4 linked regions of the Homo sapiens genome follow. The protein of the gene in region 1 interacts with the protein of each later gene in a biochemical or structural test. Each region holds a gene or a part of one and is shown on either strand. Other genes may lie near its edges.

Region 1 (8,006 bases):
TCCTCTCATTCTAGCTCAGTAAAATCAATCTCTTTTCCTCATCTGGGCTCATTCTCTCCTCTTAGACAGCTAGGCCCAATCAAGCAACCGGATGATTTGAAAGTGTTTAAATGCTAGAAAACAATGTTTAAAGCCATCTATATACACTATCAAAGCTGACTTTTTATAGACCTAGATGCTTATTAGCATCTATGCTATTCATTAGCATTAAAGATTAAAAATACGGTTATGCTCACTTTATCAAACTGACCTAGCAAAGAATCTCTGCCTAAAAAGTTTGTTTTCCAAGCTGCCACATTCCTCAGCACTCAAAAGTCCTCTTCACTCTTTGTTCTTTTCCCAATAGTTTTCAAGTTTTTACATCTTTTTGTTCTAATCAGAAAATAAGTTAGAATAACTGACCTGCTTACCAAGTTGTAAGCAAAAATTACATTATTCTCTGATCACAATAGGCTAGGCAAGCTCAAAGTATGACTTTGTATAAGGCTGCCCTCATTTCAACATGCTATAAAGTATTAATTTTTTTAAACTTCCATTTTCTATCAATTGTAAACACATTCTTTGAATCCTTGAAAAATAATGGTTTTGGTAAAGCGATACACACCTTGGAAAGTTAGCCACTTTAGACTCAAGGTCATCTGAACTCTGTTTCAGAAAACGCTACAGTTGTATGACAAAGAGCTACTTTTACACTTAGGAGAAAAGCTTCTGATTTCAAGATCTTAGAAAAGAAAAATATCCATACAGTGGAGGTGAGAAAAGCTGGCCCTGACAATTCTCTAAGACCAAAAGAAACTACCTCAGGGAATGTGGCAATCCATTAAGAAGCAGTGAAAATCTCAACACCTTGACTAACTTGTGGGGTTTAATTGTGGCAGAAAAACTTAAGAACAATGAAGGAAATGAATTGAAGACTGACACACTCCATGCTAGTTGCATGCTGAATACAATTTTAACCATGCTTGGGTGACAGGTCAACCCACTCTGGCTTAAAATTGTAAGAAATAAAATTCAACTAAGAACTAAGTTACAATACGTATTTCTTGTTGTCAACTCAGTCAATTTCAGTGGAAAAGACTTCTCTCCACAATGCTTCCACTGTGATGGGGTGTATCATAATCAACTCCAACACTTCAGACCAACAATTTTCATTTAAAGACATTTTAGACTCTACTGCATTAAACTGATGCAGAAAATTTGTCTACACAGTCTCAAAGTCCCTTATGGAATTCATTCAGCTAATTCAGAGACCAGATATGGCATACAAATTTTATATACTGATCAATCATACTTATTAGTATATAGATTACAGTGGTTAGAAATATTAGTCTAGCAGAAACTAATATACACACTACAGTCCAAATAAAAAGAATCCTGTCAAATAAGCTTGATGTAAATCCACATGAAAATCAAGGCTGCCAAAAAAAAAGGCTTTTGTTAGTCAAGCATACCAAAGAACTGCTTAAACCTTTTTTCCTTTCTAAGCGGAGCTCAAAATAGATTTTAATACTACAGCTGATGGATCTCACAATTTGCCTTTTGAGCCTATAAGCTGAAAACAGAATCATCTGCTGTCTCCCTTTACACAAGTAACAAAATCTCTCTATTCTGTATATCGCTTATTTAAGATACTGTGCAAGTGTGGTTTTAGTTAATCTTAACAACCCCCGCAATGACATTTAATTGGGAGTATGTATCTTATTCAGCTGCTTGTGAAAGGAAGAGCTCTTTGTGTTTTTAACTACTTGTTTTATAGATATATGAGAAACCCTCCTTTCCTAACTTTTTAACACACAAGGAGATGACTCCTAAGACAAGGTCATCTCTGCCACGACCAAAGACTAAGCTGCTCATTGAGGAAAGATGCTATTTTAGAGAGGGTTAAAACGTTAACCTTCCTGAGTCCCTGCCTGAAAGAATAATATCATGGCCCCAATGGAGTGGGTACCGCAGGCCTCCTGGCTAGAAGGTTCTTTAGCCCCATATTCTCACGGCTTTCTGCTCCTCTTGGTTCAGCTCACAAAGCAAATGTCTCCTCCTTTGACAGGCCTTCCCTGATCCCCTTCTCTAAGACAGCCGGCCTTCTATGCAGTCACCCTGTACCCCGTTAGGAAGTCGTTCTCTTCACAGCACCTGTCACTATCTGAAATTATTTGCTTTTGTGTTTGATTGCCCTATTCGACTCTAGGCCCCACTAAGGCTAGGATCTTGCCTGTCCTGATTAGCAAACACCACCTCCAATGCCTAAGCGGTGCCTAGCACAGAATAAGCTTGCCAACTCCTATCCAATAAATGAATGAACAGAAAGGGGAAAGGGGACTGTCATCTCTGGGACTCGACGCACACTGAGACTAGGGGAAAGGAAATGTGAAGGAGGGACGGGGGGAGTAACCTTTTCCCCCAGGGAGACAAAGGAAGAGAGTCTGAGGTGGTCCACTCCAGAAAAGGAAATAGTGGGGGTGCTAAATCACCCCAGGGGACAAAGAGTGGACAGGCAGGGGGCGGGGTCGGGGTGCGAGGGATTCGCGTTGAGAGCACAGACCGGCGGTCCCCCGGCTTGAGAGATCACCCGAGCTGGAGAACAGAAGGGAGGTGGGGGATCGAAGGGGGCTCCGACGCTGCGGCGAGAAACACGCCCGCCCCGGGGACAAAGGGTGGGGGGACGCAGTGCGTCGCTGTCCCATCGAATCCTCAAGCAGTAGGAGCGAGGCAGAGGGCAAGACCCAGAGGGAGTCTGGGGCCTGGAGGTCTGAGGGGATGTTCAAGCGGCCTAAGCGAAGGGCCCGCCACGCTCCGGGGCGCTCCCGCACCTGGTAAATGGCCGCCCAGCTCCCGGACTTGTCGATCTGCTCGAACTCCTTTTCCATCTCCATGACGGGCCAGGGCGGCTGCTGCGCCTCCTTCTCGGCCCACTGCGCCGTCTGCCGCTCTAGGCCGCGTCGCGCTCTTAGCCCCGAGGCCCGCTGCAATCCCCGACCCCTGCAGCTACCGCCGCCCTAGCCGCTGCTGCTTCTTCATGTCAACCGGCAGCCGGAACTACGCATCACGCCTGCCAGGGGCTCCGCCCCTGAAGCAGAAGGACCAATCAGCGATCGAGAATTTCGACAAGCACTTCCGCGGGGAGGAGCCGGGGGCGGTGCTAGGGGAAGTGGCCCCAGCACCGCGAGATATCTAATAGCGCGCGTTCCCTCCTCCGCTTTGGGGCTCTGGGCTCGGGCGCGGCGCGCGCCTGTTGCCTAGGCGACCCCGGGAGCCCCGCCCACGGCGCGTGGGCTCTCCAGGCCCGGGAGGGCATTGAGTTCCAGCCCCGACCCGGCCCGTTGAGTCACAGAGTGAGTGGCCTTAAAGTAGTCATGCACCTCCTTTCCTGCAGGGCCTGGGCCCCAGCCTCAGTAATCCAAGCTGGAGTATGGGAGGAGGGCACCGTGCTCTATTTCCTGCCTCCCAGCTCTGGCCAGATGTCTGCCCTTTTTTCATGAAACTCAGGAGTATCATGTTTCACTACGCTGCTGGGGAAGCCCACTGCTCTCTAAGGGTAGTGTCCCTGTCTGAAACGCAGAATTTCCACTTGGGTGCTGCAGGAATGAATGGATGGGGATGGAATGATTTTCAGTGTTTCCCGAAGTATCAAGGAACTCCTGCTCAGACTGAACTAAGCAGAGCACAAATTCCATGGTGCATTATGTTAAATAAAAATCATAGGAGCCCAGGCGCGGTGGCTTACATCTGTAATCCCAGCACTTTGGGAGGCAGAGGCAGGCGGATGTCTTGAGGCCAGGAGTTCCAGACCAGCCTGGGTAACAGAATCAGACCTCGTCACTACTAAAAGTTAAAAAATTAGCCGGTGTGGTGGGGCCCAGCTGCTGGGGAGGCTGAGGCAGGAAGATCACCTGAGCCCAGGAGGTGGAAGCTGCAGTGAGCTGTTTTGGCGCCACTGCACTCCACCTTGGGTGGCAGAGAGAGACCCTGTCTTGAAAAAAAAGGGCTGGGTGTGGTGGCTCACACCTGTAATCCCAGCACTTTGGGAGACCGACGCAGGTGGATCACCTGAGGTCAAGAGTCCGAGACCAGCCTGACCAACATGGTGAAACTCGGTTTCTGCTAAAAAAAAAAAAAAAAAAAAAAATTAGCCGGGCGTGGTGGCGCATGCCTGTAATCCCAGCTACTTGGGAGGCTGAGGCAGGAGAATCGCTTGAACCCTGGAGGCAGAGGTTGCAGTGAGCCAAGATAGCTCCACTGCACTCCAGCCTGGGCAACAAGAGCGAAACAAACAAACAAAAAAAGTTCTGGCATTAGGGTCTCAACAGACTAGACTAAAAATCAAAATGGAGTCACTCATGCTAAAGTTCTACATCATCAGACTGATAACCTTTCACAAAATCAGAAGAGAGATACACACCCTGATTTCCCAAGCAGACCGTTTTAATCAACATAATGAAGTTCCCTTTGCTTTAATCCTTACAACAAAAAGTAACCTGAAGTAACCCGATGCGACCAATCAGTTATTTCTCTCTTGTTCTGTTTCCCTGTTCCTGCCTTACAAGGAAAGTAACTTTGAAATGACCAATCTGCTTTTTGTTCTTTGTTTCTGCTTTTTTCAGCCCTTTTCTGTCTATAAAACCAACCTCCTCTGCTCAGCTCATTGGGACACTTGTGCTATTTTGAGGAATGAAGTCTTGCCCGATTCTAGAATCATGAATGAAGCCAATTAAGATGTTTAAGTTTGTTGTAATTTTGTCTTTTGACATTTACGGTCACCTGGGAAGTGTGTTGAATAATGCAGGTTCCTGGACCCATCGCCAAATGATTCAGATATCTTTGGTCTAGGGATGAGACCCGGAATCTGCATTTTCACCAACAACTCCAGCTGATTCTCGTACCTATGATCCTTAAAGCACCCATGAGCAGGTTGGTCAGGTTGCCTTCCTGCAGGCTCCAGTTTAAACCATCCCCCTCTGGGCCTGGCATGTCATGTGGACGTTGTGAATTCCAGGAGGTTTGAAAACCTGGAAGAGAGAATTGTCTTCATTCCGTGTTGCCCAGAGACACTGCCTGGTATTATCAGCTGAACTCCAGCTCATTCCTTGAGTGCTTGTGGCAGGCACTATGCCTGGAATTCTAAGTACACATTCCCATTCAATCTCCACAACAACCCTTCAATACAGGTGCTATTATTCCCATTTTATAAACGAGAAAACTGACTGGCTGTGGTGGCTCACGCCTGTAATCCCACCACTTTGGGAGGCCGTGGTGGGTGCATCACTTGAGGTCAGGAATTCGAGACCAGCCTGACAAGCATGGTGAAACCTCAACTCTACTAAAAATACAAAAATTAGCAGGGTGTGGTGGTGCATGCCTGTAATCCCAGCTACTCGGCAGGCTGAGGCACAAGAATCACTTCAACCTGGGAGGCAGAGGCTGCAGTGAGCTGAGATTGCACCACTGCACTCCAGCCTGGGCAACAGAGCAAGATCCTGTCTCAAAAAAAAAAAAAAAAATTAGCCGGCTGTGGTGGCGTGCACCTGTAGTCCCAGGTACTCAGGAGGCTGAGATGGGAGAATCACTTGAGCCTGGGAGATTGAGGCTGCAGTGAGCCATGATCATGTCACTGCACTCCAGCCTGGACGATAGAGTGAGACACTGTCTCAAAAAAAATAAATAAATAAAAATAGGCCAGGCCTGGTGGCTCACACCTGTAATCCTAGCACTTTGGGAGGCTGAGGCAGGTGGATCACCTAAGGTCAGGAGTTCAAGACCAGCCTGGCCAACATGGTGAAAGCCTGTCTCTACTAAAAACACAGAAAATAGATGGGTGTGGTGGTGCACACCTGTAATCCCAGCTAATTGGGAGGCTGAGGAAGGAGAATGGCTTGAACCTGGGAAGTGGAGGTTGCAGTGAGCCGAGATTGAACCACTGCACTCCAGCCTGTGCGACGGGAGAAAGATGCCATCTCAAAAAATAAATAAATAAATACAATAAATTAAATTAAAATAAAAATAAAAAATTAGATGAGGGGGGGACCGGGTGCGGTGACTCATGCCTGTAATCGCAGCACTTTGGGAGGCTAAGGCGGGTGATCGCCTGAGGTCAGGAGTTCGACACCAGCCTGATCAATATGGTGAAACCCCATCTCTACTAAAAATACAAAAAAATTAGCCAGCCATGGTGGCGTGTGATTGTAGACCCAGCTACTCGGGAGGCTGAGACAGGAGAATTGCTTGAACCTGGGAGGCAGAGGTTGCAGTGAGCCAAGATCACACCACTGCACTCGGGCCTGGGTGACAGAGCAAGACTCTGTCTTAAAAAAAAAAAATGGATGAGGAAACTGAAGCACAGAGAGACAAAATTACTTGTCCAGAGTAGCATTGCACATTGGTATGGAAACCTGCATTCTAGCCTGGTTTCCAGAGCCTGCTTTGGAGCCAGGCTTCGTGGGTCCAGGTTCCAGCTGAATAAATACTAGTGGTGCAAACTTGGGCAAATTTTCATTAGTCTCTGCTCTCCTTTGTAAAACAGAGATAATAAAAGTGCCCACCTCATAGGGCTGATGTGAAGGTTGGATGAGTACATATCATGCTCTTAGTATACTGAGTGGCTCAATAAATATTAACTGTCATTACTACATATCTTTAAATAATAGCAAATAAAGGAGATAAATGAAATGTTATTGAATACATGCAATTAGCTTGATCAGCAGTGTCTTTAGAAAGTGAGCATTCCATAGGGGAAAAATTAACAAAAATGCCCATTCCAGTGAAAACTGTGGGAGCTGCCACACTTGGAAGCTACCTAATTGAAGTCTTAGTTCCTTTAAGTGACTGTCCAGACTCCTGTGCTCCTCCCGCCCTTAAACCCTTATACTTTTTGGGTTCTGGTTTGTCTGGAACTCACAATCCTGAGAGCATCCTGGAACAAAAACAGGGCTGGTTCATTCCTGTCCCTGTATGTCAAGCTAAGTAAGTAAATAAATGCCCATCCCAAGCCCAAGTGGCCCTCACGCCTGCAGGGGGTGCTGCCCAGTGACTGGAGTAGCCTGTTTTGTTTTGTTTTGTTTTGTTTTGTTTTGTTTTGTTTTGTTTGAGTTAGAGTCTTGTTCTGTCACCCATGCTGGAGTGCAATGGCGTGATCTTGGCTCACTGCAACTTCCACCTCCCGGATTCAAGCGATTCTCCTGCCTCAGCCTTCTTAGTAGCTGAGGTTACAGGTGTGCGCCACCACGCCCAGCTGATTTTTGTACTTTTAGTAGAGATGGGGTTTTGCCATGTTGGCCAGGCTGATCTCGAACTCCTGACCTCAGGTGATCCGCGCGCCTCGGCCTCCCGAAGTGCTGGGATTACAGGTATGAGCCACTGCACCCAGCCTGGAGTAGCCTTTGAATGGGGCCGAAGCTATACACAGGGTCTTGGTGGGGGAGAGGGGAGTTGGAGGCAGCCTCAAGCAGGGTCCAAGTTTGGGCTGTTTAGAGGCTGTACTTGTTTCCAGTGGCTGCTGTAACAAATTACCACAAATTTGGTGGCTTCAAGTAACAGAAATTTATTCTCTCACAGTTCTTGAGGCCCAAAGTCCAAAATCAAGGTGTTGACAGTGCCGTGCTCCCTCTGAAGGCTCCAGGGGAGGGTCCTCCTTTGCATTCTCCAGCTTCTGGTAGCTCCAGTCATTACTTGGCTTGTGGCTGCCTCACTCTGATCCCTGCCTCTGTCTTGGCAGACTTTCTTCTCTGTATCTCCTGTTCTGCCTGCCCCATTTCCCTCTGCCCTGTTCCTACAAGGATGCCTCTCTTTGGATTCAGGGCTCATCCTATCCAGAACGATTTGGCAATCCCATCTCAAGATTCTTAAATTTATTACATGTGCAAAGACCCTTTTTCCAAATAGGTCACATTTACAGGTATGGGGACTTGGACATATCTTTTTGGAGGCCTCCACTCAATCTACTACAGTGGCAGAGAGTGAAACCTTGCCACAAATATTGATCCTGAACGAAACCCCTAATTTCAGGTACCAGC
Region 2 (7,021 bases), on another chromosome or scaffold:
TTAAAAGTGATGCCGTTTGGCAGTTTCTAGACATGTGATATTTTAAACAAAAAGAAGCCACTTTGTTATCTTTAGGGAGATAAAAACAATTTTCATTTGGTCTTCAGGAACAAAATAAGCAACTTCCTTTTACAATTTTAACCATAAACTGTTTTGTTACTTGAATATTGTGTTGTAGCCAACAAGTTTGAATATACAGTCATGTTCTTGTCTTGAAATTTTAGTATTGATAACATAGTATAAAAAATTGGAAAAAAGGTTGATACATCGAAATAGTTCAGTGATCCTTTATAGGCAAGATTTTTTTCCCCCCAAGGTTGAATTTACACAGTAATCTGACTAGATATTTAGGTATGTTTTTTTCTATTAAATCATTGGGTTTCACATACAAACCTTTAGTGGTAGAGTACTTGGTCACATAACTTGTTTAAAATATGCTATCCAACAGAAAATATGTTAAGATATTTTGTTCTTGTTTTTGTTTTTCAGGGGGTTTGGGAAACAAGGCTTCCAGTGCCAAGGTAAGCTACCACTTTTGGTTTTATTTTCAAGCACAACATGAAATAAGCATTCCAAACAAGAACATTATTTCCAGTCATATTTTCTTTCCAATAAAAAAATGTTATTTAGATAATTTTGAAATATGAGGGCTGTAAATTTGGGCCTTAAAAAATAATTGGGGCCTACTAATCTGCATATAGAGCTGCCTTTTTCTCATTGGAAAAAAAAAAAAAAAGCCTTTCTGTAATTTTATTTTTTGCCGAGAACATTCTTGTCAGAAACTGCTGTCTTTGTGTGGGTGTTGAGAAAAAAATGGAATCACTTTGTATTCAAGTGGCTTTTCTTCCTTGTTCTTCCTCTTTGTTTTTATTCTTCATCGCTTTTACTTATGTATTGAGTTGGACTCACTGCAACTAATTTTAGGCCGTATTTCATTCTAGTAAGGGTTTGTTTTGTTTAGAATACCAGTTGTCATCGAGAACAAAGTTTGCATGTTTTAAAGTTTTGTTGATGATTTGATGACTGATTTCTATGGTATGACTATGTAGCATGCTTTCCTTTCAGCTTACATATCTGACAAAACGTGATATCAGCCATCACATACAGAAAGAAATCCATTTGCTTCACCCTCTGATCTGTAATTGCATTTCACACACATCGAATATCTAACTTTTTGTACTCTCCATTCTAATTGTTTGACTTTTCCTTTTTGAAGAAACCCACTTTAGAGCTTGTGAAGGCATCACAGGCTCATTAGCTAACTTTTCTGGCTCTCCTGCTCATTGTCTATATTGTGTTTATTTAGTTCTGGTTCCATTTCCCATCTGGGCATAGATTTATTATTAGGGCAAGCAGAAAGTACATTCTAGCCTGGAAAATATTATCCTAACACTGTTTAATATTAAGTGCATTAGAGAGAAAGGCACTGTGTACTTTTTTACAACTTTGAGATTGTGCTAGTAAATTGGTTGCCTTTTAAAAACTAGTTCAAATTTGTGAACTTGTTTCTTGTATACATTTTCTAAACATATTTTAGATGGGAGTATTTTATGGTATGATTATTCATTTAATATTCTACCTTCCTTTCTCCAAGATGTGCTTAAAACCCCTACTGAGTGTATCATTTTCAGAGTTGCATTTGAAAATCAAGGGATATTCCTTTTAAAAAGAGAAGAAAGAGAAAGATGTGTTATACCAGTCTCTACAAAAGATGAAAGGAAAATGTAGCTCTTTCTAGTTCTCAAAGTTGTGGGCCTGAACTTTATGGGTGAGATTTGAGCCTAGGCTTGAACATGACTTTAGGGAGTTTAAAGATGTAAGGTTCTGGGCCAATGTGATTGACATCTGTTATTTTTGGTGATATTTTTCGTTTGGGTGGGGACTTACATAAATCTATAAGAAAATTTTTGTACTGAATCTTCTCCATACTGCTTGTCTGGGAGAAAGTGGTTGTCTTGTTCTAAAACTTTTATCATTTTCTGCATAAATAAAAAATAAGGTTGATTAGAATAAGGTTGGTTCCTCTTAGACCCGCTCATCTGAGCAGATTTTGTGGAAATCACAGTGGCCGTATTACTAGGCTCTAGGGGGTTTTGCATGATTTCCCCCAGAGCATCTCTTGAACTTTTAGTGGATTAGCAGATTAATAGTTTCATGGCAACATAACTCCCTTTTACCTAAATTAAAAAAGTGAAACCCATAAAAATTTTAAACTGTATAAAATAAAAAGTGAAATTGCATATGCTTCTCTTTTCCCTCCTCCAGAGATAACTTCTGTTTGAGACAACCATTCGTTCACTCACTCACACATACTTAGTTTTTAAAAGGAGATCAAAATTTTATACGACTTTGCAACTTGCTCTTTTCACTCAGCAGTAGATGGTGGATATTCTTCCACATCAAAGCATCAGTTCTGCCTTACTCTGCTTAGTGGCTGCATGTGTGGATGTATCCAATTTATTCACCCATTCCTCTATCAAGGGGTATTTTGTAATTCGTTCTTACTAGTACAAATACCTTTGTCAAGAGCATTATTGGACACTAGTATAGGTATTTCTACAATAGATAGCCAGAAGTGTGTATGTGTGCATCTTACATTTTAACGGGTGCTGCTAAATTGCTCTTCAAGAGTTCCAGTGCACATTTTTTTGTATTAATGGGACTTCCTCTTCATTTTTACCAGTGAAGATATCGGGTAATATACATCTTTTACATTTTTTACCAATCTGGTAGGTGAAAAGGGGCCCCTCTTTTAGATTTCCATCTCCTGCATTATGGGTGAGCTTGAACTTTTTTTTTCAAATGTGTTTTAGCCATTTGTGTTGTGTGAATTGCCTTACTCTACCTAATATTTGAAACTCTGGATTTACAAACCAGACAAATTAGAGAAGTGACTATGTGCTTTCTATATAGTTCTTTGCTTTGGTGAAGAATTTAACCTCAGATCTCTTTAAATAATGAATTACCCTAGTGCGTTTACAAATTACAGTTCACAGAGACCTTTTCCAATAGTATACATTTATTTGTAACATGCTGTCTGCTTGTTATATTTTGTTTACTGTGTCTCATCTGTATTTGACTTCTAGTAGGCATATGCTAGTCCATTGTATTTTATTGTTTGTTGTAACTTAAGAAGGATATGTTACCTCAGGGTGATGCTTTTAATCCCACAAATATAGTTACCCAGCATTTTCTGTTTTGGCTCCTACCGCAAAATTAATCTTTCTATTAACATCTGACTATCGTAGAGTGAAGTTTTCTTTTAATGCTCTCTAATTTTGTTTTTTTTTTCCTCGGTTTTGTTTGATAGAACATCATTCTTCTGCAGGAGAATAACTCATTCTCATTCATACCTTTGGCAACACACTCTCTGGAAATGACAGCTGGAGTTTGAAACTGCTTTTTGTATTCCTCATACATCAGATTATTTTTACCCGATGAGGCAGTGCTTTCTGTCCACTAGTATGTAGTATGTTGCTTTGGTTAGTAGGTAAAATATCTGCAGCAAGCATAGTTTTTCTTTTTTTAACTAGAGGGGTGTGTATGCTCCCAGTGACTCACATATTCATGCAGTAAGTAATATAGCTTTAGATCCAAAATATTTATCTTCATTTTACTTAGTAAATGGTGAGTAGGTATTTGAAGACTAAAGAAATAAGTGAGTTTTAGTCCTTAAAACTGGGTTTGTAATTTATGCCATTTAGAGAATGGCATCTTACAAGCATGTGAAGTACTAAAGTTATTTCTACTTTCATTTATGTTGTATCTTGGGGAAGGGAAGGGCGTTTCTCTGGAGAGACTTATTGGCTTATTCTCATGTTCCCTTCATGGACTCTGTGCCATTCTTCTTTATATTGCAATATAGGTATACAATCCTGAAAACTGATATTACCAGGGCAAGTAACACAGGATCCCGTTGTCAGAATTTGCTGCCTGAAACGGTGAAACCAAGGGCCATTCTTCTGGGGAGGAGAAAGATGAGTGTGTAGTAGATTTCCAAGTGGGAAATACTTTTCTTAAGGTCCTCAGAGATAAAGACAAGCGTGTTCCTTCACAGCTCTGAAGTGACCCTTTTTACATGACTTGGAGTTGCCTTCTTATTTTTGGTTGAATGTTTTTTTGCTTGATGTACCCCTAGCACTCATTTCATCTCCATAAAACTAGCAGAGATCTAGTCCTTGCCCACTTTTTTTTTCCCCCGTCAGAGAAAGGAGAAGAAGACAGGAAGTAGATTTGTGTGGTATGGACATTGATGAAGTTGAGTTTCAAGTCTGGAAGGTCTGTTTCCAGTTGGTAGTTTCTGTCTTGCACTGGCTACTTCCAAAGTCAGTCATCAGAGAACAGAGCGATCCACTGTACTGCTCAAATGCACTCTTTCTCTGGGGCAGTGGAGCTGAAACAGTGTTATCCACTGCTTTCAGTACTGGAAAAGGGAAAGAGCCAACTCGATTTTTTTCCCCCTCCTTAGGCGGAGCAACACCCATGCACTTCTCTAATTACAGTGGTAGAAACAGCCTCTCAAAATGTGACCTGCCTATTTCAAATGCCAAACAGTTAACATAGTTTGTTTCATCTGCCTAACCTCCACTTGTTTTCTCTAATTTTTTTTTTTTTTTGCTATTCTTTGTCTTTTAATATCACAAATGAAAATGTGCTACAAACCTAGGCTCTTTGATGAGGTGAAGATACTCAAGAGACAGCGTGAGAATTAAGCTCTGTCAGTAACCATGACCAACAGGAGCCTGTTGTCCCTGAATGATCGTCACTGGATTTTGAGGGGTCTGCTGGGAAAGAATTTACATTTTTGTGCTTTCAATGATGCTACTAAAGTTGTTTTGAATCTTGAGTCATTTCCCTGCTAAGAACATAACACATATTGTACTTCATCTGTGACTTCAACTGAAGCTCTGCATTTTTCAGTGTTAAGGGTTAAAAAATCAGCTACTCTTCCCCTTTGATATTTTGTTTTGAAGGCCTGTTTCAGAGAAGGTATTTGCATTGGCTCATCTGAGCAGGGTGGTGATTTCTATTCCTTCTGTAAGAATGAAAGTTGGTGTTTAAGGGAAGAAAAAAAAGAATGAGTCTCCTCTTGGCTGTGTGAGCTGAGGGATTCCAGAAAACAAGACTACTTAAGGAAGGTGGCCTTTAAACAGAAAGGGGGCAGTAGCGAGTGAGTCACCAGCCTTTCAGAAAAGGGATGCGCCGTTGTCCTCATCCGCCACGGTGTTCTGAGAGCTGAGTTGTATGGACACCAAGTACCAGGAGATAGGAGACTGAGGTACAAGTTGGGTGGAATCATGAGGTAGGCCAGATTGAGCAGAGGATCTGTCTGTCCTCCCTATGGCCAACTTGAGCAGAGGATCTGTCCTCCCTATGTACTGCATTGACCGCTGCTTGCACTGTGTGGCCTCTGGCTGCCCGCTGGTTTTCAAAGTTAGTGCCAGGGTTTTCCATTATTCTGTCTTCAGGAGGGGTTCAGCCCTTGGTACCTCAGTTTTGATTGGTTACCCATCCCCAAATTGTAAGTTATGTTAATTAGAGATAAACTCTTGGAGGTTTAGTTCCAAAAAGATAGAATGCATGGAAGACTGAGTATAATTTGAAACCTAGAGTTTTTGTAGTAATGCCAGGTCAAAGCATTATCTCAGTCTCAAAGATGAAATGGTCAGTAATGCCTGAATTACAGAGAAAAGTGGTGGAGGTGGACAGTTAGAACTGCCTTTCTGTGGTTGGGTGCAGTGGCTCATGCCTGTCATCCCAGCACTTTGGAAGGTTGAGGCGGTCGAATTGCTTGAGCCCAGAACTTTAAGACCAGCCCGGGCAACATGGCAAAACCCCATCGCTACAAAAAATAGAAAAAGTAGCTGGGCATGGTGGTGCAGCACCCGTGGTCTCAGCTACTTGGGAAGCTGAGGTGGGAGGATCACTTGAGCCTGGGAGGTCGAGGATGCAATGAGGTGTGATCGTGCCACTGCATTCCAGCCTGGGCGACAGAGTGAGAGCCTGTCTCAAAAAACAAAACCAAACAATAACAAAAAATGCTATTTTTCTTTTCAACAGTGTTTTTCCTCCGTAAAACTGCATTAATACTTAGAAGTAGGGATGGTTAGATAAAACTAGTGTTGAGTGTTCCCATTTGGTGCTATATACTTGTTATAAAATGATTTCTGATTAATGACTTTCTGAATTGCTACTCTTTTACTTTATACGGTAAGTGAAAGTGTTTCGTTAATTTATTCACACATCAATCCTACCCCCGCCACCAGAAGCTGGGGTTGTAGCATATGGAGAGGCTATTTATCCTCATAGGTCGTGAAAGCCGAATAAATGTTTACTTTTGCAGATAAATCTGATGTTTGAGTTTCCTTTTCTTTATATTATTTTATTTTTTTGAGATGGAGTCTCGCTCTTGTCTCCCAGGCTGCGGTGCAATGGTGCAACTTTGGCTCACTGCAACCTCTGCCTCCTGGGTTCAAGCAATTCTTCTGCCTCAGCCTCCTGAATAGCTGGGATTACAGATGCATGCCACCATGCCCAGCTAATTTTTGTATTTTTAGTAGAGACGGAGTTTCACCATATTGGCCAGGCTGGTCTTGAACTCCAGACCTTAGGTGATCCTCCTGTTTCAGCCTCCCAAAGTGCTGGGATTACAGGCGTGGGCCACTGCACCCAACCAGAGTTTCCTTTTCTTTACATTTTTTGGTGGTTTCCTGCCCTCCGAGTATTTCACTCTCCTGGATGATACTATTGAAATTTAAGTTTTTAGACACATTAACTCCTCACTTGCTCAATTGTTTTTCTTCATGCAGATTCAGAGTATTCCATTTCCAAATAGCATTAGTTTCACAGCTGCCCTATCAGGATAAGTCCAACTCCTTAGCAAGACATTGGAAGACTCTTAAAGTCTCCTGCCTGACCTCTTCAGACTTACCTACAATGCTTTCCTTCTTCCTATCCCTGGGTCATTGTGAATAAGTTGCAGTTTCCCAGAAAGTGCTTGTTTCAATTCTTTCCTCAACCC
Region 3 (7,021 bases), on another chromosome or scaffold:
TGCACATTTCTGCAGATCTGTCTCCCCACACAGAACAGCAGAGTCACCGCTGCTGGTCACCAGAGATACCAGCCCGAGGGACTCAACGAAGGGCTCGATGACATGGCCACCCTAGCACATGGGGCCAATGTGGGGTGAGGGAGGTCAAAGTGAGAGGAGGGTGCAGGGCCTTGCCAGGGACCAGGCCCCAGCTGAGAACAAATCTCCCCCTAAGCACAGGAGCCCAGCGTGGCAGAAGAGGAGCCGGGGCTGGGCAGGCGGCACCCACCTGTAGGTGGACGTAGTCATAGTCCTCCATCCAGCCCCCCTCGCTGTTCTCGTACTGCCCATCTGGCGAGTCCTGGGAGGTGAACTTAGGGGGTGAGGGCAGGGGTCGTGACTGGATGCTGCTGGTCTTGTCAGTGGGGTTGGGGTGCAGGGTGCCACCCCCCTCAGGCCCCGGGGCAGTGGCCTTGGTCCGTCTGAAGAGCAGTGAGGCATTGCCGTGCAGGAAGGAGGCCAGCTGCTTGGCGTCCTCGGGCACAGCCCGCGAGCAGGCCACCAGCCGGTCCAGGTCCTCAAGGGTGGCTCCAGAGCCTCCCCGGCCAGCGTCGAGGGCCTGACCATGTGCCACCAGCGTCTGGTGCACGTCCTCCATCTTCTGCAGCTGCCGGCTAAGCTTGGCATGCAGGGCACGGTCAGATGTGTGGGCAGCATTGCCCACCGCGCTGCGGGCAAACTCCAACAGCTCGTGGACGGCACTCTGGACAGCGGCCACAGCAGCCTGCAGGTCCTGCACCAGCGGCTCCTGTGGCTCAGAGGGGCTACGCCAGCTCCCAGTCGCACCGGCGCTGCCTGCCAGGTCCAGAAGGTGGGCAACGGTGGCGCTCACACCCTGCTGCAGCCGTGCCAGGGCCTCCACAGCAACTTCCAGCTCCAGGGGTTCCCGGCCCGGCCCTGCCACCTCCAAGGAGGACGCAGACTGGCTGCTGCGTGTGCTGCCGGTGCTGGAGGCCGACAGGCGCTTGCCCTCTGCCGGGGCTTCACGTTCAGCTGGGGGAGGCACCGCATACACACCACTGTCGACCACGCCACCATCAGCCACCTCAGGAGGAAGCACCCGTTCACGGGGCACATCGTACAGGGTGCCCGGGCCAGGCCGCCGCAAGCCAGGGGGCACGTCGTAGAGGTCAGGAGCCGGGGGCGGCACGTCATACACGTCCTCGGCCGGCGGGGAGTCTGGAGGGGGCGCAGCCAGTACCAGTGGGGTGCGGGCCGGGTCAAAGGGCTTGGCCTTGGCGAAGGCGGGGGGCACATCGTAGGTCTCCTCACGCAGCAGTGGGCCATCGGGCACATCCTTGCTCACCGATGGAGGAACGTCGTAGACCTGGGGGACAAGCGGTGGTCAAGACTGTCCATCTGTCCATCTGCCCACCCCAGGGACTGGGGGCAGCACCCAGCCACACACACACACACACGTACACACATACAGACACACACACAGAGGCACGCGCACACACACAGGCACACATACAAATGCAGAGGCACGCACACAGGCACACACACGCGCACACACACTCGCAGCCCTAGCACACACATCCTTCACAATTCCTATCCATGACAGCTCTGGGACGAGCCGGCTCTGGAGCCAGGTGACCACCCCTGTGCCTGAAGGTGGGAGAGCTTCCTCCCAAAGAATTGCATGTGTTAATTCACATAATTGTGTCACTGCAGACACTCACTGAAAGGTTAGCTGTGATACTGCCACTGCCACCACCATCATATCATGATTTCATCACCATCACCGCCGCTGCCACCTCATCACCACCATCACTGTTACCACCCAGCACCACCACCACGTGTGAACTTTCTACTCTGCAGCAGGTGTGCGACTGAGCTCTGTGTGTATTATCAGGGGACCAAATTCTGGTTTGCCCAGGACAGTGCTGGTTTGTCCCTGATGCCCCCACATAATTACTAGTCCCCCCTTCACTCTTGGAAGTATCCCAGGTGAGATGACACATCCCGTGGTCACCTTGCGGATACCCTCTCAGGAGCTCATGGAGAAGGCCTCGCAACAGGCGGTTCTGCCGACAAAGAACCTGAGGCTCAGAAGACAGCTTGATTTCCTCATCTGTCAACCATCCAGAACCAGGGTCTGGAGCCAGTCTCTTCCTGCCCGCCACCCCCAGCCCTGCAGACACTGGTCAGCACCCCTGTGCACACACCCAGACACCCCACAGCCTCAGCCTGGCCCTGGCATTGCCCTGGCATTTGCTCACTGCGTGGTGGTTGGACGGTGGCAGGCCCTTCTCCACACTGGGGGGCACGTCATACACCTCCAGCAACGGGTCTCGGCCATTGGGACCCTTGACAGCCATGGGGGGTGTGTCATACACCTGGGGCAGAAACAGTGCAGGGTTAACGGCGCCAGGGCCACTTGGGGGAATAGGAAAGGTGGGAACCCCGCAGCACCGTCCCCAGGCCTGGCCGGGGCTGAGAAGATGCAGCTCTCGGCCCAGGGCCAAGCAGAGGCACAGACTTGCCGCCCTGCCCTCCCACCGCTGCGCACCCCACACCTACCTCCTGGCCATACTGGCTGGGAAGCAGCCCCCGAACCGGGGGCACATCATAGATGTCCTGTGGCCCCGGGGCCAGCAGGTGTCGCGGGATGTCGTACTCGTCCTGCTCCGGCTGGGCGGCCTCGTATACATAGCCCTGCCCCACGCGGGTGGGCACCACCACCTGGGGGCAGAGAGCCGACTTCACTGCTGCCCTCAAACCAGCCCTTAGGGAGGCTCCACTCACACCTGGGAGCCACGTCCTTTTAGGAGGTGGGCAGGGCACACCAGGTGGAAGGGACGGGGCTCCCCAAGGATGCCAGTTCTCACCCCCTCTGCACCATCTGACCTTCCTCTAGCAGAACGCAGTGCCAGGTACGGCAAGAACTCTGGGTTTTATTCAGAGCTGCCTCGTCCTGGGCCAGGACACCAACGTCTCTACAGCCTGCTGACCCAGAAGGCTCCACAGAGGAGCATGGGTATGAGCTGATGACACCGGTGGGGTGAGGGGCTGAGGCCCTGGCTCTGGAGGGCACTACCCACAGGCAAGGAACCCCCCGTTACTGGGGCGCCTAGCCCCACAGGACAAGAGGCCACGTCGGAGGCCTGGGAGTCTGCTGCCCACACCACCTAGCTGTAGCCTCCTCAGAAGGGTTGGCCCAGCAGGGGACTGCATCCGGCCCAGGACCAGATAGAGCCTAGCACCCCCTGCCCCACAGCACAGCATGGGGAGACTCTGGAGGACAGGGCCAGAGGGGCAGGTTGGGTGTGTGCTGGGGGGCGCAGCAGCTGGGACCAAGGCCCCCTCCCTGCCGCGCCTGCCCCGGGGGAGCTGCCTGCAGCAGGTAAGATCCCCAGCGACCTGAAAGGATGAGGCCTAGTGGGGGAAGTGGGTCCAGGGCCAGCCCTCCCCTCCCCAGGTGCTCTTACCATGACCCAGAGCCCAGGGAAGCCAAGGCCCGCACAGTGGGTGAAGAGGCAGGCAGCACAATGGCCTGCCCAGGGCCACAGGACCCCTCACCAGCACCAGCCTGAAGCGGGTAGGGGCCATGCCAGGCAGCCTCCTTCCCTGAAGGTCTCCCTGCCTTGGGGAGGTCAAGGCCTCCCTGGTGGGATTCTCCAGCCCCCGGGCACACTGCGCCCACACGCCTCCACCACCAGGCTCCCTGTTCAGCTCTCTCCACTGAAAGACCTTTTGTTCCTTCATCAAAGGGGATGTCTGGGACAGGGTTGACTCAGGGCCTCCCCGCACATCCCCCAGGGCAGCAGCGCCAAAGCAGCCCCTCCCCCGGGCCCAGTGCCCCTGAACCCCTAGAGGCCCTCCCAATGCAGGCAGGCAGCCAGCCCTGCTTGCTGAGGGTGCTGTGAGGGGGGCGCTGAGCATGGGGGTGGCAGAGGCGCCAGCACCCCCCAGCAGCCGCAGGCCTGGCAGAGCCCCCCGCAGCGCAGCAGAACTGGGCCCACTAGGTCTCCAGCACGCCTGGTAGCAGAGTCCCGGCTGGGGGCCTCCGTGGGGTGTCCCCGCCCCCTTCCAGTGCGTCTGGGAGTGGATTTGGCGGCTGCCTCTCCAGACTCATCTCCCTCCACGCGCCCCAGACTTGAGTCTCCTCCAGAACTATTTTTAGATGCAGGGACCTGCCAACAGCGGGGCAGGCGGGGCGGAGGGACGTGGCAGGTTGGCTGGGCCTCGAGGCACGGCCTGAGGCTTCTCCAGGCCTCCCAGCCTCCCAAAGGCAGGTGGGGACCCAGCCTCAAGGCTCAGCCAGGACCCAGCACCAGCAGGAGGGATGAGCATCCTCCAAAAGCACCCTGCCGGTGGCCATCCCAACCTCACGCGGTGAGGCCCAGGGGTGCAGCTGGACCCAGGCCTGCCTCCCCAGGCAAATGGCCGCCTGCCACTCTTGGAGCTGAGTCGGGTGGCAGTAGGCAGCCACAGTGACCAAATGTTTCTGTTAGAAAAACAGAGCAACGCAGCCACCAGGGGGAAAAGCTCTTTAGGGGAATGACTCAGCCCCACTGCTAATCACAGGCCACCCTGCTGCACACCTGAGACCCCACTAGCAGGCCGTGGAGGTCCCCCGGGGGTTAGGGGAACACAGCCAGAGCCCAGGAGGAGAGAACAGAGGCACAGTCACTGACATAAGACCCACACGGTCTCTGACACACATGCCTCATACAATGCAGAGAAAACACAGCACAGGCCCACTGCCAGGTGCACGCACAGAACCCAGGCAGCCCCAGGGCCAGGGTGCCGCCCCTCTCCTCCCCTACTATCAGGCATCAAGCGGGGGGACAAGCGAACTCAGGAATACATCCCAGCCTCCCGGTAAGGGCCCCAGAGGCAGGTGTCAGGTCGGAGGAAGGGGACAAAGTGGGCCCCCGCCCTGGAGCTCAGTGGCTGGTCTCCCCCTTCTGCAAAATGGGTGTCGCCCCTGACCTGGGTTGGCTCCCGGCTCTGGCACCCCCAGGTCCCAATCCAGGAGCCTCGTTTCCTCCTTGGGAAATGGAGCACCACAGGAGCGCTGCGACCACGGCCACCAGGACACACCCCAGCATGAGGGGCTCACCCGACCTGGGTCATGGTGGCCTGAGGGGCCACCACCATAGCCCGCTCCCCTCCCTCCCCAGCTCCAGGCACCCCAGCCTGAGGTCCCAGCACAGGGGAGCCTGGGGCAAGATGAAGCTTCTAGGGCGAGGAGGGTGAAACACAGGCCCGACAGGACCACGTGCACGCCTGACCTCACGCCATGGCTGTCTCCTTAGACACTGACCAGGGGCACTACCTGAGCGACCTCCCACAGACGCCTTCCCCCGGGGGTCCCATCTGACCATGAAAGAGCCTCTGCCCTCAGATTCCTACAGCCCACACCCGGCCCAAAGAGTCTCGGTGCCAGTGTGGCCCTCACCTCTCCCTCAGCCATACGGGCCACCAGGCTCCCACCTTAGCAACCACTGGACCCTGCTCCAGGGCCCAGGGTTCTGACCCTCCTGGCCACCATCCTTGTCACTCACCCTCTTGGCTTCCTGAGAGCCAGTGTCCCTCCCGCCCACGTGAAGTCCTGGCAAGGGCTCCTTCTCAGCCCAGCCAACCACTACCCTGGAACTGGGAGACTCAGTTTCCCAGGCATTTGAGGGGCAGGCCTGAGGCTTGGAGGGGAGCACCTGGAGGTTCAGACACAGATGTCCCGCAGCCAGGTGTTACCGCCGTGCCACCGTAATGAAGGCATGAGCAATCGGAAACTGCCCAGGGCCCGCCCCAGCAGAGGGGGCAACCCAGCAAAGTCCAAGGCGGCTCAGGGACAAGCTTTAAGAATTCAACAAAATGCTTTTGATATCTAATGTTGGATTTACAACTTTGAAATGCAAAACTGCATGTATAAATCTGTGAAACACAGGGCAGATACTAGACAAAATATGCCAGAATTTCCCAGTGATTACCGCGATTGGAAAATTTCATCTCCAGACTTTCCCATACATTATGCATTTTCTACAGCAAACAAGCATTGCTTTTGTGATCATAAAATACAAGCAGACACAATCAAGACTGGGGGAGGTTTCCTGGGGGAGAGCAGCCAGGCCCAGGACACAGGGCTCTCCTTCCTGGGCCATCAGCCAGGTCAGGGCCCTTGGGGCACAGGTCTGGGCAGCTCTACCAGTGGGCATGGGCAGAGAAGGACCCAGCTGGCTGAGCCCCTGATGCAATTGAGAGCAGGCCCCCTGCCGGAGACGGAGACAGAACAGCTGCCAAAACACAGCCTCGAGGCCGGGCTCTGTCTGGGGGTCTCGCTGCTGCTCCCCAGCCCACAGGGCTTCCAGCCGCACCAGGACAAGCTTCACTGCAAAGGCGGGAGAGGAGGGGTGGGGATGTGCCTGACCTTGGGGCATGTGCAGTGTGGACTGTGTGTGCGTGTGCATACGCACATACATTTGTACGTTTGTGGGATACTGGTGGGTGCACACGCTTTGTATGTGTGGACGTACACGTGTCTGTGTGTGGGGTGAGTATGCACGTGTGTTTACACATATGGGGTTTGGGTGTGTGCGTGTTCATGCATATGATGTGCGCATGTGTGGGCGTATACGTGTGTCCATTTATGGGGTATGGGATGCAGATATGTGCATGTATTCACGCACATTCATGTAGCGCATGTGTGTGTTCGTGCATATGGTGTGTGCATGGGTGTTCGTATCTGTGGGGTACAGGCATCATGCACGTGTGTTCATCTGTGTGGGGTGTGGGTATACCTGGACTGTGGCCTGAGGCTCCCCTACAGGACACTGCTCCCTGCCGCCTCCCCAGGGGATAACAGGACCCTGCTCCTCTTGCTAAAGCCAGTTTGGGAGCACCCCCACCCAGGCACCCCACGCCAGCCAGGCTCGCCTCTGACCAGATGGCTGAAGGAGCAGGTAGAGCAGGAAGTGGGAGCCAGTGACCCAGGTTCCCCTGGTGGCCAGGCTTGGTGGCCCATGTCCATGGAGTC
Region 4 (6,929 bases), on another chromosome or scaffold:
TTTCCTTTTTCTCAGATCATGGCCTTAAAATTATCAAACAGAAAAACAAAGTGAAAATGATCAGCCCTATCTTCTTTCTTTCTTCATTATATGCATCTATCACCTAAAACAGAATTTTAAAAGCACCACCACACACACACAACAATATCTGACTGTGGAAGGCACTCCCCATAATCTCAAAACAGTCAGAAGCACTCTGAATTCCATATGGCCTTCTCCATCTAACTACTGACACCCCATCTCATGAAAAAGATTCTGACAAAAGGCCACAGACTTTGGACCAGCCTGGTAAGCCTCAACCAGCCCAGTCCAAGACCACCACAGTTGGGGCCCTATCCACCCTTGCTCTCCGCTCTTGGCTCCTGCTCTCCTTGCCAAAAAGATAGAGATCCTAGCACCCTGGACTCAGCCCGACAGTTGGCTGCTCCCGACACATCTCAGCTATGCTAGGCCTGAACATTCCCCTCTGCTCTGCTGTCATTTCCTTTTGCCTGAGGCTTACACCATAAGCATCAGCAGCAGAACAGGCAACAGAGACTAGGAAGGTCTCTTACTTACATTAAAAAACAGGTTATCTTGGTCAACTACGTTGGCAGAAACATGGTTGTATGTTTTCTGTGGAAGGAAAAATGCATGCGCACTCGACAACCGGAAGGCCACAGCCCAAGCCCCACTTTAGGGCTGCCTATCTCAGTATCAAACACAATAAGGAAAACTGGGAGAAACTTTGCCTTACAATCTTCCACGTATACGAATAAAATCTCATGTTAATGAGATGTATGGAATGACAGCATCCTTCAGGAAAAAAATGATAACAATAACAGTCCAGTAGAGGTGACACAGGAATGCTAGAGAAAGGACTGGCAAGTTCTTGCTTGGTGATGCATTTGTCACAAAGCATCAGAAAAGGAGAATAGAAATACACAGTTCTGTTTCTTCAAGCCACAACAAGCTCAAACATTTCCAGGGACACAGAGGTCCAATGCTAAAGCCAGCCTTCATCAGAGTTCTACCCAGTGCTTTATCATCCAACCTAGTCCTGGGAAATTATTCAATGGGCAATTAAGAGTTATAATCCAAGTGGTCTCAAAATCATATCTCTGGGAAGTCAAGTCCAAATTAAATTAGACCAGGCTTTTAGGCTTCCAACTATCATATTTTTTTCTTTTGAGCGAGTGCATTTCAACACTCAGAACTTCTCCTCTTACAGATCATTTTCAAGGCCATCTCTGGATGCCATCTCCTAAGCAAAATCCGATATATAAAATGAAAAGGGAAATTGGTTAACTTAAATCTCAAAAAAGATGTTAAGGGAGAGACTGTCACTTCCCTCAACAGATTTGGGAAAGTTAATTATTTTAACCTCTTTTCTAGTGAATATTAATGGAACTTCTAACACAACATACACACAGCACTTTATGAAACAAAAATGCCCAAAACTAAGTTAGTGCATACTGAAAGCCTAAAGCACACCCAGCAGAGCTTTGAAATATAAAAAGCATAGTGAGTTCCTTCCCACGAGGAATAAATATATAATCGGCATATGTATATCTATATTTGAAACTTATTCTAAAGTGTCACACTTCTCCCTGCACTAGCAGTCCCAAGCCAGTGAAACAGCAGGTAACTGACAGATGACCCTGTCCTGCATCCCTTGTCTTTGACTTCTCCCCACTCTTGGGACAGCATTCACTTCCAGGACCTACCCACCTGGCCAGCTCGGGCCCTAGGGGCAAGGAGAAAAAGGAGGAAAAGCTCCAGGAACTCACATTTCGGTGATGTTCTCAGGATCTACACTGTTAGGCTCCAATCTCGGAAATGCCACGATGCCAGGAGAAGGGTCGCTGCACCAGATCCGAGAGGCACTGCATTTGCAGGACGTGGGACAGGCGAAAGCGGCCCTCCAGAAGCCCACAACCAGCCAGCAGAAGCCCCAGAGCCGCGCCATGGCGGGTCCATGCCACCTTATCCAGGACGACATCCCTAGCAGCCAGTGCCAGCCCGAGTGCCTGTCCCCGCGCTGCACCGGCCGCTTTCCCCCACCCGTGCGGGGAGGCCTTCCCTGCGCTTGCGGCTCTCTTAACTCCTCGGTGCTTGTTGCGGGCGTGCCGAGTCCAGCTTATCAGAGGCTGAGCTGGTCCGGAGCGAAGAGTGTTCCGGCAGGCGGCAGGGTTCACAGTGGCCCCGGCATAGCGAACCGCTTTACAGGGGGGCGCTACCGCTGCTCGGAGCTCCGCGGCGGCCGTCGCTGCATGGCCCGGCGCGCCGGGCACCGACCGGCGGCGCTCCCGGGACTCTCTGGGGCGCAGATTCCTTGTTAGATGCGAATGGGGGTCCGGTATGCACCTCGAGGCTGAGGACAAACAGACACGCGTAAGACTGAGCGTAGGACCCCCAACACCACTAATTGGGGCACTCTCCCTCTCTGCTCGCGTCATCCCCACCCCGACCCCAGCCCGGAGACTGTGGATGGATGAGTGCCCAGCTCCGGCCCAGGAATCAACTTGCCCCGCGATGGCACTGACGCCGCTGGAGCCACCAGTGTGCCCACTCTCTCTTCGAGCCTGAGGCCAAGGGAGGGGAGGTAGGGAAAGGGTCCCCAAGACAGGATTCCATGGTACAGGCCGGGCGAAGGACCCTTTAAAGGGGAATGCGGAGACTGCCGGCGGCTTTGGCTCCGCGACGGGGCCCCCGAATGATGCTGCAGAATCCGCCACGGCCGCTGGGTGCCGGTGGCGCGGGCAGGTGGCGCGGCACGTCCCACCTGGGGAGTAGCCGAGGCCGCCCCAGGGGGAGACAGTGAGGGCCGAGGCGACCGAGGGCACTATCTGCGCTGCTCACCCGGGCTCCGGCGCCTCACGCCCGCCGGCGGCGCCTGGGTCCAGGCTCCTGCTACCGCCGGGGACTGAGCGCGTAGAGCGCGAGCGAAGCAGCCAGCGAGGCTCCTGCTCCAACCCAATTCCGGGAGCCGCCGCCGCCGCCTCTGCTACTGCTGGCGAAGTGACGTGAGGGCTGACGCAGAGCAGGGGCAGAAACTCCAGAAAATTAGTCTGAAATCCAAAAACACACACACGCTCATACACACACAAACCCATAACACCCTCCAGACAAAAGCACCAGGGAGGGGAGGGGAATCTGGGGGCGAGCAGGGAGGAGGGAGGCATCGGTGCCACTGGCCAGAAGCAGACAGCAGCAGCATGTGGGAGTTCACACACGCGCGCACACACGCACACATCCTGGCCGTGTAGACATGCACGCGCGTGCGTGTGTGTGTCTGTGTGTGTGTGTGCATTTACATCCAGGTACCTCTAAGATGAACCGTTCCTCCGTTCGACGCCTCCCGGTCCCTAATTCACACCACAGTCTCTTCTACAATCGCGGTAGAGGCTGTCTCCCTTTTTGAAATGGAAACCGTGCTTGGTTCAGCTCTGAAAAATGCGCTGATTCTTATTATAGGAATCCTCCCTCCCTTCTCCCTCCCCGCGTTCTCCTTTCCCACCCTGCCTAAAAGGGAGGGCAAGCTATCCTAAAAATAAATAAATGTTGTAAACACCAAAACGTGTTCTGCATTGGTAACCAAGGATCACCGCCCCCATTCCGGGCCACCTATTTGGGGATCGGTGGTTTTGGAGGGGCTTCCTGTTGGTGCTTTTGCAGAGGGAAGGGAGTCTCCAAACACAATTCTAGCTCTCTAAGTGGGTCTTTTTCCTGCCGTTTTCTGCCATCACACGCCCGGGAAATAGAGACATGTGAGGGGAAGGGAGCGCGCCTGATGCGTATTCTAAATGCTCGGTGGCCACCCTGGCCTGTCCGATGTGTGGCGCCGCGTCATTTTCTCTCATCCTTTAACCTGACGGGATGTAGCCATTCCCAGATCGTGGATTCACTCCCCGCGATGCCCACCCCCACGTAGGGCATCCCAAGCCCTTGCTCCCCTGCCGTACCTTGCGCGTGTTCATGTGTGCTAGGGTGTGCGCGAACGCGTGCCCTGCGCCCGCGCTGCCCGGAGCACGATATGCATCCAGCTACGAAGAAGCCAGGCGCGGGCAGAGCCTCGGGGTCTCACTAGGGACAAATTAGGCGATCCGGGAGGGTCGGGTGACAAACCGTAACTATTCTGCGGGTGCAGTTAAATGATGGCTGCGGGGCATTTGCAAGCCTTGTCTGAGAATCCGTCTTCCCTTTTGCGGCTCGGAATCTGTTTTTCCGCAGTCATTTAAAAGAGAACGGGGAAAATACACCGCAGTGCCTGACACTTCCGAGGGCTCTGGTGCCCCCGCGCGGGGAGAGAGCGCCCGGCACGCTCCGGAGCACCAGCCCATGGCCCGGGTCGCGGCGGGCACAGCGCTGGGGGCGCGCTCTGGCGCCAGATGCGCAACCAGCGGCGCCCGACGCCTGCGCGTCCCTGCCCGGCCGGTGCGCGGCTCTCCTGGCCTCGCCGAGCTCCTGCCCGGGGGAAAAAGGCGGGCAATCCTTCTCTCTCGAGAGAGCAATGGGTTGGAGTCTCGTTCAAAATATAGTAATAGTCACTGATCTACCCGCAGAGTTTGGGGATGGGAAGGATCAAGAAACCGAACGTTAGAGTGAATGCTCGGATCTAGGCCAAGCGTTAAATATTACGAAGGGAACGTAAAACATCTATTGGGGCTTTTTTGTACAGATCCTGGGCGCTGAGTGTAACCGCGGGAATTCTTGGACAGCACCCAAAAATCTTGCTGCAGGTCCCGAAAGCAAGGCCAGCAGGTCTATCTCACCACTGTCACTCGGCTGTAACACACATCGAGTGGTGAACGGCCAGGCTGAAGTTTACTCCTGAGCTGCGCCTCTATTCTCTACTAGGTGAGGACGCGCCAAGGAAGAGACGCCAAGGGCAAAAATGACCTGGTCTCAGACGCACGTAAAACTCCGCCTGTCTTGTCAGTGAACCTTAAGCGGAGAAGCCCCTGAGGAACACTTGGGGAAGGAAGGAGTGTGTGCGTAATCACCCACATTTCTCTCACACTCCCATACTCTGAGCCCATTTTTCTAAGAAACGGCCCATTTTCGCCCTAGTGGCTGCAGCATGTCAATGCGGTATGGAGAATAGGCAGTCTTACGGTGGTTTGTACACCAGAAGAGTCTAATTATGTTGGAATATTTGTAGAGTTTCTATTAGAGTAAATATATGCTACTATTATAGTTGGATTCTAAATATATTCCACTATCTCCCACTTAAAATTAGGATTTGCGGTCCTACTTCTAATCACCCTACTTCTGCTCTACTATTTCAACCATAGCAGTTTGTCCTTTGGACAGATAATTTACTTATTATATATATTTTTAAAATTTCTCCCAGAAGAATGTACACTCCATGAAGGCAGGGATTTTTATCTATTTTATTCATTGATATCTCTCAAGGACATAGTAGGTGTTAAAATATATGTGTATTTTTAATGAATAAATAAAATAAAATAAAGGAGATCTCACTTTCTTAACCTCTAAGTCTGCAAGAACCTGGATAATTCCCCCAGACACGCTCCTTCTCACCTTCACAATTTCAAATCTTCCTTGCGTTCTGAGTGCTCCTAGCACTGCTTAAAACCTTGCCTTACTTTCTGTCTCATTTAGTAGCCAGATAGGCTTCAGTACTGGGCCAGAGAGGGCCTCCCACTTATTCATGCTAGTAACTGAACACCTCCATGGACAGTGTCTAGAACACACTGGTGATCAGTAGCTATTTCTTAACTGATAGAATTGTGGATCTACCTCGATTTTAAGACCTATAAGATATGTCCCAGAGATCACTTCAAGGATTCTCAGATCACACCTTTGTAAGAGATGATGAACATTTTTCAGATGAACAATATAGAGATGACTTTTTTCTAGATCCCTTGAATGCAGGCATAGAAATTAAGTGCTGCAGGTTCCTACCTGCACTGAACCATGATGTACCTAGAGCAATGTTTCTCAAACTCTTTTGACCATGATCCACAATAAGAAATGCCTTTTATATCACAACCCAATGAACACATACATAAAGGCATATACTAACTAAAAAAGAAGTGTCATAATACAAAACTTACTTACCCTTAGTACATAAACTAATATATCCTTTTCTCTTCTACACCATTTCATTTCTGAATGCATGTAATAACTCAATACATTGATTTTAACATCCAATACTGAGTTGTAAAAAAATAAGCAAGAATACTGCCAACTTCTGATTAAAATGGAGTAATAGGGAACGGATTTGTTCTCTCAATCATATGACCAAAACACTGAACAAAATATATTAAAGTTAAGACAATGGATATAAGACAATGAAGGTCATCGTTCAGAGAGAAGGAACCCAGGCAGAGGCCATCTACCTAAGTTGAGGAGACTAGCTCAAGAGAAATCAAGGAGTGCAGAGTTCACAAGACAGAGTAGCAAAGAGAAGAGTATTGCCCAGAAAGAACTATGGACATCTGCAGAGGGTTCCTCTCAAGTATTCAGCATAGTGCTGATTGACACATGCAGGTAATAAAGCTACCTGAGGCCAGAGAAAGAAGCACGCAAAAGATTAAAGCGAATAGAGTTAAAACAAATCAAAAGGAAAATGTAAAACACTATGTATCAGAATTTGTGTGATACAACTAAAGCAGTTTTTAGAGGGAATTTTATAGCACTAAATTCCTGTATCAGGAAAGAAGAAAGATCTCTAACCAATGACCTCAGCTTCCACCTTAAGAAATCAGAGGGAAAAAAAGAACAAATTAAACACGAGGTAAGCAGAAGAGAAGAAATAATACAGAGCAGAGTGGAAAATAATGAAATAGAAAACATAAAACCAATAGAGAAAATTAATTAAATCAAGAGCTGGTTCTTTGTGAAGATCAATAAAAACAGCTAGTCCAACTGATCAGAAATAAAAAAGAGAAAACACAAAGGACCAATAACAGTAATGAGAG

The links.
Region 2: of the proteins of PTPN1 (region 1) and PRKCA, one has a biochemical effect on the other in vitro, tested with the Homo sapiens proteins (one study listed by BioGRID).
Region 3: the proteins of PTPN1 (region 1) and BCAR1 form a complex in vitro, tested with the Homo sapiens proteins (3 studies listed by BioGRID and IntAct, with this or other methods).
Region 4: the proteins of PTPN1 (region 1) and NTRK2 form a complex in vitro, tested with the Homo sapiens proteins (2 studies listed by BioGRID, with this or other methods).

The regions. Positions count from the first base shown.
Region 1 is NC_000020.11:50,505,395-50,513,400, reverse strand, and holds the start of PTPN1 (tyrosine-protein phosphatase non-receptor type 1), read right to left. Parts: upstream 3,019-8,006; 5' UTR 2,874-3,018; coding exon 2,811-2,873; intron 1-2,810. UniProt on the Homo sapiens protein: Tyrosine-protein phosphatase which acts as a regulator of endoplasmic reticulum unfolded protein response. Mediates dephosphorylation of EIF2AK3/PERK; inactivating the protein kinase activity of EIF2AK3/PERK.
Region 2 is NC_000017.11:66,305,607-66,312,627, forward strand, and holds part of PRKCA (protein kinase C alpha type), read left to right. Parts: intron 1-489; coding exon 490-521; intron 522-7,021. UniProt on the Homo sapiens protein: Calcium-activated, phospholipid- and diacylglycerol (DAG)-dependent serine/threonine-protein kinase that is involved in positive and negative regulation of cell proliferation, apoptosis, differentiation, migration and adhesion, tumorigenesis, cardiac hypertrophy, angiogenesis, platelet function and inflammation, by directly phosphorylating targets such as RAF1, BCL2, CSPG4, TNNT2/CTNT, or activating signaling cascade involving MAPK1/3 (ERK1/2) and RAP1GAP.
Region 3 is NC_000016.10:75,234,621-75,241,641, forward strand, and holds part of BCAR1 (breast cancer anti-estrogen resistance protein 1), read right to left. Parts: intron 4,041-7,021; exon of another isoform or gene 3,474-4,040; coding exon of another isoform or gene 3,471-3,473; intron 2,725-3,470; coding exon 2,563-2,724; intron 2,379-2,562; coding exon 2,262-2,378; coding exon of another isoform or gene 2,208-2,261; intron 1,367-2,207; coding exon 269-1,366; intron 1-268. UniProt on the Homo sapiens protein: Docking protein which plays a central coordinating role for tyrosine kinase-based signaling related to cell adhesion. Implicated in induction of cell migration and cell branching. Involved in the BCAR3-mediated inhibition of TGFB signaling.
Region 4 is NC_000009.12:84,665,801-84,672,729, reverse strand, and holds the start of NTRK2 (BDNF/NT-3 growth factors receptor isoform a precursor), read right to left. Parts: upstream 3,002-6,929; 5' UTR 2,842-3,001; exon of another isoform or gene 2,509-2,841; intron 2,382-2,508; exon of another isoform or gene 2,354-2,381; 5' UTR 1,982-2,353; coding exon 1,770-1,981; intron 640-1,769; exon of another isoform or gene 559-639; intron 1-558. UniProt on the Homo sapiens protein: Receptor tyrosine kinase involved in the development and the maturation of the central and the peripheral nervous systems through regulation of neuron survival, proliferation, migration, differentiation, and synapse formation and plasticity.